Linked DNA regions of Homo sapiens. The protein of the gene in region 2 purifies or fractionates together with the protein of the main gene of each other region. This does not show direct contact. Each region holds a gene or a part of one and is shown on either strand. Other genes may lie near its edges.

Evidence for each region. Proteins that work in one complex are often made in the same cells at the same time.
Region 1: the proteins of CREG1 (region 2) and DLD fractionate together in Homo sapiens (co-fractionation; one large-scale study listed by BioGRID). This does not show direct contact.

What each region holds. Positions count from the first base shown.
Region 1 is NC_000007.14:107,900,997-107,904,682, reverse strand, and holds part of DLD (dihydrolipoyl dehydrogenase, mitochondrial isoform 1 precursor), read right to left. Parts: intron 2,946-3,686; coding exon 2,866-2,945; intron 2,359-2,865; coding exon 2,290-2,358; intron 1,206-2,289; coding exon 1,136-1,205; intron 1-1,135. UniProt on the Homo sapiens protein: Lipoamide dehydrogenase is a component of the glycine cleavage system as well as an E3 component of three alpha-ketoacid dehydrogenase complexes (pyruvate-, alpha-ketoglutarate-, and branched-chain amino acid-dehydrogenase complex).
Region 2 is NC_000001.11:167,550,858-167,555,283, forward strand, and holds the start of CREG1 (protein CREG1 precursor), read right to left. Parts: upstream 2,906-4,426; 5' UTR 2,885-2,905; coding exon 2,531-2,884; intron 1-2,530.

The sequences.
Region 1 (3,686 bases), on a different chromosome or scaffold from region 2:
ACTTTACGATGGTTATAAGTCTGGAAGATATGTAAGTAGAAATGACAAAGTAAAACATCATCTGAAATTTTAAATAAAGGAAAATGCTAGATTTCATGAAACAAAACAAATAAAAAATACACGTTTAAAAATTTCAAATACAGAAGCTTAACATTAAAAAGTTTAATCACCTAGGTTTTAATCACTCATTCAACTCAGAAGAGAACTCTGAAGCAACAGTATTAGATAAAAATGCTCAACTCAATTAAACTTTAGAGGTAAGAAGGGTATCTTAGAAAGTACCTCATATAACCAACACATATATTAGAGATAAGGAAAAAGAGACTCTGAGAGATTTCTGATTTACCCAAGGTCACAGAGCTAGGATGTAAAAGCCTTGCCTACAATGCAGGTCTCCTGACTACCCCTAGCTCTTCTTTCTTTACGTCATTCCATTTTTCAACTAGTATGATATTCTATTTGCTTTAGTGCATATACATCATCTCTATACCCAATGGATTGCCTTAAGTAGCCCCTCAAACCTACCTCTGTAAAGAAACAAATGAAGGAAAAGTAACAACCCAAGGTTATGACTAGGTCCTGCCCAGAAGAGACTACCTTTCTGGAAGTATCTAACAACAACAATAATTGGAGACAAAAGATTAAAACAGCTCAAAAAGTATGTCAGGAGACAAGATACGTTATGAAATGTCCTCTTCCTTTTCCGCTATGCCTCACTCTTTCTCTCCTCTAATTTTTCTACTATCAACAGCTTAAGTGGGCCTTCCTTCCTTCCTCTATCTCCCCATAGTACTCAGGAATCCAGCCTTCTCAGTGATTTCCAGATTTTAGGAAATGAAAACTGACTCTTCAAAAACACATAAAGGCAAACCTCAGGAAAAAGTTGGCAAAGGAACAGAAGATATAATGGTAGAAATCTGGATTTGCAGGGTTAGGCTTGGTTATACTTGGCTGGGAGAAATCTGGATTTAGGCCTTCTTTTTTAAGTAAATCTCTCCACATTTTTTAGATTATTTATTTTACTCTTCCTTCACTAAACATCTATTATGCGTACGTTAGACACATTTAAGTCTTTAGACAGAAGAGCCAAGTCAAGCAGTCTGGTAATATCATTAAGCATGAAAAGTATACTTACTTTCAATTCCTCTAGATGCAAAATCTTTTCCATGGGCCATATGGTAATAATGAGAGTTGTTCAATAAAGCCTAAAGGAAATTAAAAAGATCAAATTATCAAATATTCATAAACAGACTTCAAATAATCAAAAAGCACTTATGAAATGATAGTCTTTCTTTTCATTTTTTGAGACGGAGTTTCGTTCTTATTGCCCAAGCTGGAGTGCAATGGCGCCATCTCAGCTCACCGCAACCTCCGCCTCCCGGGCTCAAGCAATTGTCCCTGGGATTACAGGCATGCATCACCACGCCTGGCTAATTTTGTATTTTTAGTAGAGATGGGGTTTCTCCATGTTGGTCAGGCTGGTCCCAAACTCCCAGCCTCAGGTGATCCACCCGCCTCGGCCTCCCAAAGTGCTGGGATTACAGACGTGAGCCACCGCGCCCGGCCGATATTCTCTTTCAAATGTTCTCATCACAAAAATGATAAGTACTGTGGTAATGAATATGTTAATTAACTTGACTAAATTATTCCACATTATAGTCATAAATCATAACACCACTTTGTATGCCATAAATATATACAATTGTAATTTGTCAATTTACAATAAAAATTTAAAAAGAAGTTAAAAAAAAGACATGGCATTCTCTACATGGAATAGTATATGGCACTACACCAATTCAGTTTCTCTTATTAATCAAAGACAAACAATAATGATGTGAAAAACATTCAACAAACAAGAATGAAAAAGACATTTTTACTTTCTTTAAAAGTAAAGGCATAAGTACACACTTCAGGGTGGCAGGTGAAAAAGGCAGTCATGTTTACATACAAAAAGGACCTAAAAGAACAATTTACTATCTATTATCTGTTACACTGGTGAAGGAAAGATAAAGAGAAAAAACTAGAACATCAGAGTCTGTTTGAATGGAAAGCTAGGCATTCTGAGACAAGGAAGTTATTTCAGGAATGTGTGGCAGACTAGTGACAGCACTCTTTAAGTTTTACAAAAGAGAAGTGTGTTTTTTATCATTCTTTTTTTTCTCTGTGTGAAATGTGCCACAACTTGGATTGTTTTTTAACAAGTGTATTTGTCTAATCTAGTCTCAATCCATCCTTCTAGTTGGTTGCTAGCCAAAAACAATCTCTGTGCTGTACAAAACACATGCTCACCTTAGAAGGAATACAACCAACATTCAAGCATGTTCCACCAAGTGTTTCATTTTTCTCAATGCAGACTGTCTACAACCAAAGAAAACATTATTTAACTGCACATAACCTCAATGTTTCAGATCACTAAAATTCCAAATATATGTCTTAATTCTTCTACAAAACAAGCTATTCGGGCTATGTTTTCACAGACTAAAATATATAGTCCTTTATAATTTATCATTTGAATAATAATAAACACTTTTGGGCTGACCCAAAAGTGAATTATTCTAAAAGATATTTTTGTGTGCTTAACATTACCAAATATATGCTTTTAGTTCTATCACTGTATCTTCCAAAGTGTGATTAGATGCCAAAATGAAAAGTACTGGGAAGAGAAGAAAACTAATAGATTTCACTTTCCATTCCAAGAGAATACTACAACCAAATGAACCTAATCTTTATTAGTCTCAGGCTTACAAGTAATTTATAGAGTTAAGGAAGTATTTACCATGTTTTTGCCTGCAAAGTACTTTATAAATATGATCAACCCTTCCCAAATTAAAATAAATCAATACTTAGTTTGAGTTCAAACCTTACCTTGAAGCCTAACTGGGCAGCTTTAATAGCAGCAACATATCCTCCAGGACCAGAACCTATAACTGTTACATCAGCATCAACTACGATAAAAGCAAATTGATATAAAATAGTAAATTGCTTAATATTTACCAAAAAGAGCTCTTTGGAAGAGCAAACAAATAACCCGATACTTAAACCTCTTACAGTACAAATCAGCATTTTCTACATAGTTTCTGCACTATTTTATTACTACTACTTGATGCTCTTTGATGCTACTGAAAAATGGCATAAATACTCAAATTTCATTTTCTATTATTTTCTATTCATTACAACATACAGAAACACAACTGAGTTCTGTAACACTCACATTGTATTCACTGACCTTCCTAAATTCTATTGATTTAATAACTGACGGAATTTAGTGATACTGGAAGACAAGTATGTATGAAGCAAAGAGCCTGAGCTTTGGAATCTGACATTCTGGGCTTCATATCTCAGCACGGCCAATGAGTAGTTGTATGAACTTGACCCAATGACTTAACCTTTCTGTAATATGGGGATGAAAACACTGCCTTCAATGATTGATGTTAGAATTAAATAAGATAATTTTATATAATGCTTTAGTATTTCCAATAAATTTAAGACCTATTACCTTTTTCAGGTCCTTAACTTCTGAAATATGAGGGAAAAAACAGCTTCTATGTAATATTTAACAAATATGTTTTGTACTTGCATATTGATAATTTTTACATACCTTAAGATAATAGGCTAACCAGAATATTCAATTAACTATTGTGGCCATTTTTCAAATAAAGATAAAAAATTGAAAATTAATTTTGATC
Region 2 (4,426 bases):
GCTGCAGGGAACAAAAGAGTAGGAAACTGACTTTGAGGGATACTTATTTTAGTGGGTCAGAGAAAAAAAACCAAGAGTGACCAGAACAGAAAGGGGCACATCACAAGAAAAGAATGCCAAAATGGAAGGGAGGCTAATAGTAAGAGGTCTTGGTGCAAATAATCAAACCCCAAGATTTCCCTTCAGACTCACTGGCTCTGCAGCCAAACACGGTCCCACTATAAGCTAACATCAGCAACACTGTCCTACAGACATTTACTATACAAAAATGCCACAAAGAAAGAGACATACAAAAGAAACAGCCCAGTGGTAAGTACGTTTGAAGCTCACAACATATCTCTAAGTTACAGAGGACAGGTATTTTACACATGAGAAATGGTCCCAAACCTAGGTCTTTTTGTTCCTTCTGAACGATTTCACCCCCTGTCAATGAGAAGAAATGCAGAGCACCCTGGAGGTCAGGAGGAGGAAAAGAAAAAAGCAGAAACTTTGACCTGCTAATTGATGGAATCAAGTCAGACAAATTCTAATGTGGCCACTTCTTTTCACTGCCATCATGGAAACCTAAAGCCCTGGGTAGGTTCCTTGCCACTGCCCTGTCTATTTCTAGAAACATGAAAGACCTGGGCTAATGTCCTACCTGACAGCCATTAGCTGACTGGTCACAGGGTAAGTCCCTGCACCTCTGAGTCTGTGTTTCCTCACTTCCTAAATGGGGACAATAATACCAGCAACTCCCTAGTCACCTCACAAATTTAAATATGATTATGTATTGGTCAATCTCCCTCCTCCCCCATTAGAATCATCAGGGAGTGGTTTGTGGGGAGGCGGGAAGGGGTGTTGTCTTAAAATAAAATGTGCTTTCAATAAAATACCTTGGCATCCCATTTTTAAAGCCTTCTTAGGTGACTATGATTTGCAGTCAAAGTTGAGCACCACTGATGGAGTGGAGTGAGTTTGTTTTGAGCAAACGCCTAAAGGTGTGGAATGGGCTGGGAATAAGAAAATGGTGAACTGGGGTGTATCTGCCTTAGCTAAAAGAGGGCACTGCTTCTGTTTTTGCTCAAAGAGTGCAGGCCCACAGTGTCACTGGATCTTCCCATTTTTCAAGAAAAGTTAGAGATTTACATTTTAAAGTAAAATCTAAATTTTAAAATGTTGGTAACAAATTCAAATTTATTAAAAACAAAACAGAACTTTGTGTAGGCCAAACCGGTCTGTGGGACATATTCAGCTGATGGGCCACCAGCCTGTGATAGGTGGTTTGAAGAAAGATGAACCTGAGATGAAACTAGGGGTTTGCCCGCTGGCTTTAAACAAGTTACTTAACCTAGGTAGGCCTCAAGTTCTTCATCTGCAGAATGGGGTATATAATACCTACTTCAAAGAATTAATAGAAGAGACAACGAATGGAAGGCAAATGGAAAAGTGATTAATCAAGCATCAGTTTCTTGCATCCTGTCTTTATCAACAATGTTGTACTTTCAGAGTTGAACTCAAATGTGAGAGCTTTGTCAAAAAGACCCTCCATCAAATCAGGCTCCATTCCTGGACTCTGTGTGTCTCCGGCCTCCCAAGCTGGGTGTCTGTGACCCCATCCCTGAGACAGCAGAGATCCATCAGAGTTGTAAGTGTGGCCCTGCACCAGAAGGTGGGCAAAGGGCGAGGAAGAGATACACCTTCAATCAGCTCTGCATCTTACTGAGGAGCCACTATGCCTGTGGAGGCCTAAAGACTGCAGTAATCATTGTAATCGTCCATGATATTGTACGTTAGCGTCTTGCTGCAGGAGGGAAAAGCTTAATTCAGGAAGGGTAAGAGAGTGAGAAACCCTGAAGTCACATATTAAAGTGCTTAAGTACCTAACAATCTCTATGCCCTGTAAAACCTTTAAGAATAGGAGCCCAGGCAGGGCGCGGTGGTTCACGCCTGTAATCCCAGCACTTTGGGAGGCTGAGATGGGTGGATCACGTGAGGTCAGGAGTTTGAGACCAGCCTGGCCAACATGGTGAAACCCCGCCTCTACTAAAAATACAAAAATTAGCCGGGTGTGGTGGCACGCACCTGTAATCCCAGCTACTCGGTAGGCTGAGGCACGAGAATCGCTTGAACCTGGGAGGCAGAGGTTGCAGTAAGCTGAGATAGCGCCACTGCACTCCAGCCTGGGCCACAAAGTGAGATTCTGTCTCAAAGGGAAAAAAAAAAAAAAAGAGAATAGGAGCACAGTTAATAGAGACACTGGGCCCCAAGACGACTGAGAACCACTCACGGATGAGAAGTCCTCGGGCTGCTGGCAGAGAATTTACCCCAGGTGCGTGGCCCAGTGGCGGAGGCTTGTGGGAAATTCCTGGTACCCAGCTGCCCAACATCTGGGACGCTGCAACGCCCACCTACCTGCCTGCGCGGCAGAGAAGCAACAGCCGTTCGAGCCACGCTCCACTTCCCGGGAAGAATTCTGGGGAGAGTGAAGGCTCGCTCTGTGGCCGCCCCGCCCACAGCCCGCCTGGGGAAGCCGCGGGCCCCAGCTCACCTGCAGGTTGCTCACGGAGAGCTGCAGCGGGCTCAGGTAGAAATAGGGCACGCCGCTGCCCGCGCCCGGGGGCCCGTCGCTGAGCGAGAGGACGTCGGCGAAGGGCCGGCCGCGCACCGCCTCCAGCGTGGAGATGGTGGCCAGAGCGCCCCAGTCGGAGACGTGCGTCACGAAGCGGGCCACGCGCGCCGCGTCCTCGCGGGGTGGTAGCGGCGGCAGCCGGGAGGCCTCGTCCCAGTCCCCGTGGTCCCGGCCGCCGCGACCCCGCGCGGGCGACACGAGCAGCGCCAACAGCGTCGACGCCAGCAGGGCGGCGAGCAGTGCGCGCGCGGACCCGCGGGATAGCCCGGCCATGGCGGTGTCTCCAGGAAGAGTCCCGGGCCCCAAGACCTGCAGGGACCCAGCCGGAGCTCGGCGCGCCCAGGCCCCGCCCCCTCCGCGAGGCGCCAATCAGAGCTAAGCACAATGCAGGGGGCGGGGTCCCTCTGCAGCTCCGCAACCTGCAGGAGAAGGGATTGGTTCATCTGCATTCCAATCGCTCTGCCTGCCCTCTTTAAGGATTGTGAATTTGTCCTAAACGGGATATTTGTTTTGTTTTGTTTGACAGGCGGAAAAAGAAAGGCTTGAAGAAATCAAGCAACTTGCCCAAATCGTACTGCTAGGAAAAGACCAGCCTCTTTACACAGGCACACACCCCCTCCTTTTAATACCTTTGGAGATGAATATCTGGCATCTGAGAGGAAATGCTGCATTTTCTACCCATGCGCCTCTTTTCTGTTGAATTTACCATCAGCTCCAAAGAACAGCGAGGGTCCCAGCGTTGTAGAAGCCCAGACTCAGGCTCGTGTACCCCATGTGTAGCTGATGCCAAACACTGACATATAGGTGCTTGGAGATAAAAGTTTATTCGATTTGGCCAAAGCGAGAAGGCGGGAGGGCAAGATCTCTCAAATCCGCCCTAACAAAAAGAAGAAGCAGAGAGTGTTTATGCGGCCAGCGAGTCAGGGAGGGGGAGTTTCAGGGAATCGAGGGAAAAAGTCTGTGTTTCTTCAGTCTCAGATAATTCCTTGAACAATCAGACTTCTGGGCGACAGAAGCTGGCCTCAAAGTACTTCAAAGGACTTATTCCTCCTGCAAACTTTTTCGTAACCCTGAAGTTATTATCTCCTCCTGCTTGATAAAGAAACAGTACATCAGCAGTTTATGATTATGTTGTAGGAACAAGGGATATTGGGCAAAAAGAGAGTTGTCAACATGTGCAAGCAAGGGCCTGATCAGAATTTTCATTATTTCAGTCACTAACAAATGCTGGGGTGCTGAAATCTCAAGGGGCCCACTTACACTAGTAGTAAAGTTAGGCAGAAGCCCGAAAGTTCAAGACCTTTAAAAAACTTTTTATTTACTTATTTTAAAATTTTTAATTTTTGTGGGTACATAGTAGGTGTATACATTTATGGGGTACATGAGATATTTTGCTACAGGCATACAATGCATAATAGTCATATCAGGGTAAATGGGGTATCCATTGCCTCAAGCATTTATCCTTTGTGTTACAAACAATCCAATTATACTTTTAGTTATTTTAAATGTACACTTAAATTATTATTGGCTATAGTCACCCTGTTGTGCTATGAAATACTAGGTCTTATTCTAACTATTTTTTGTACCCATTAACCATCCCCACTCCTCCCCTGCAAGTCCCCCCACTACCCTTCCTGGCCTCTGGTAACCATCCCTCTACTCTCTGTCTCCATGAGTTCAATTGTTTCCATTTAGGCTCCCACAAATAAGTGAGGATGTGTGAAGTTTGTCTTTCTGTGCCTGGCTTATTTCACTTCACGTAATAACCTCCAGTTCCAACTATGTTGTTGCAAAGACAGACAGGATCCCATTCAT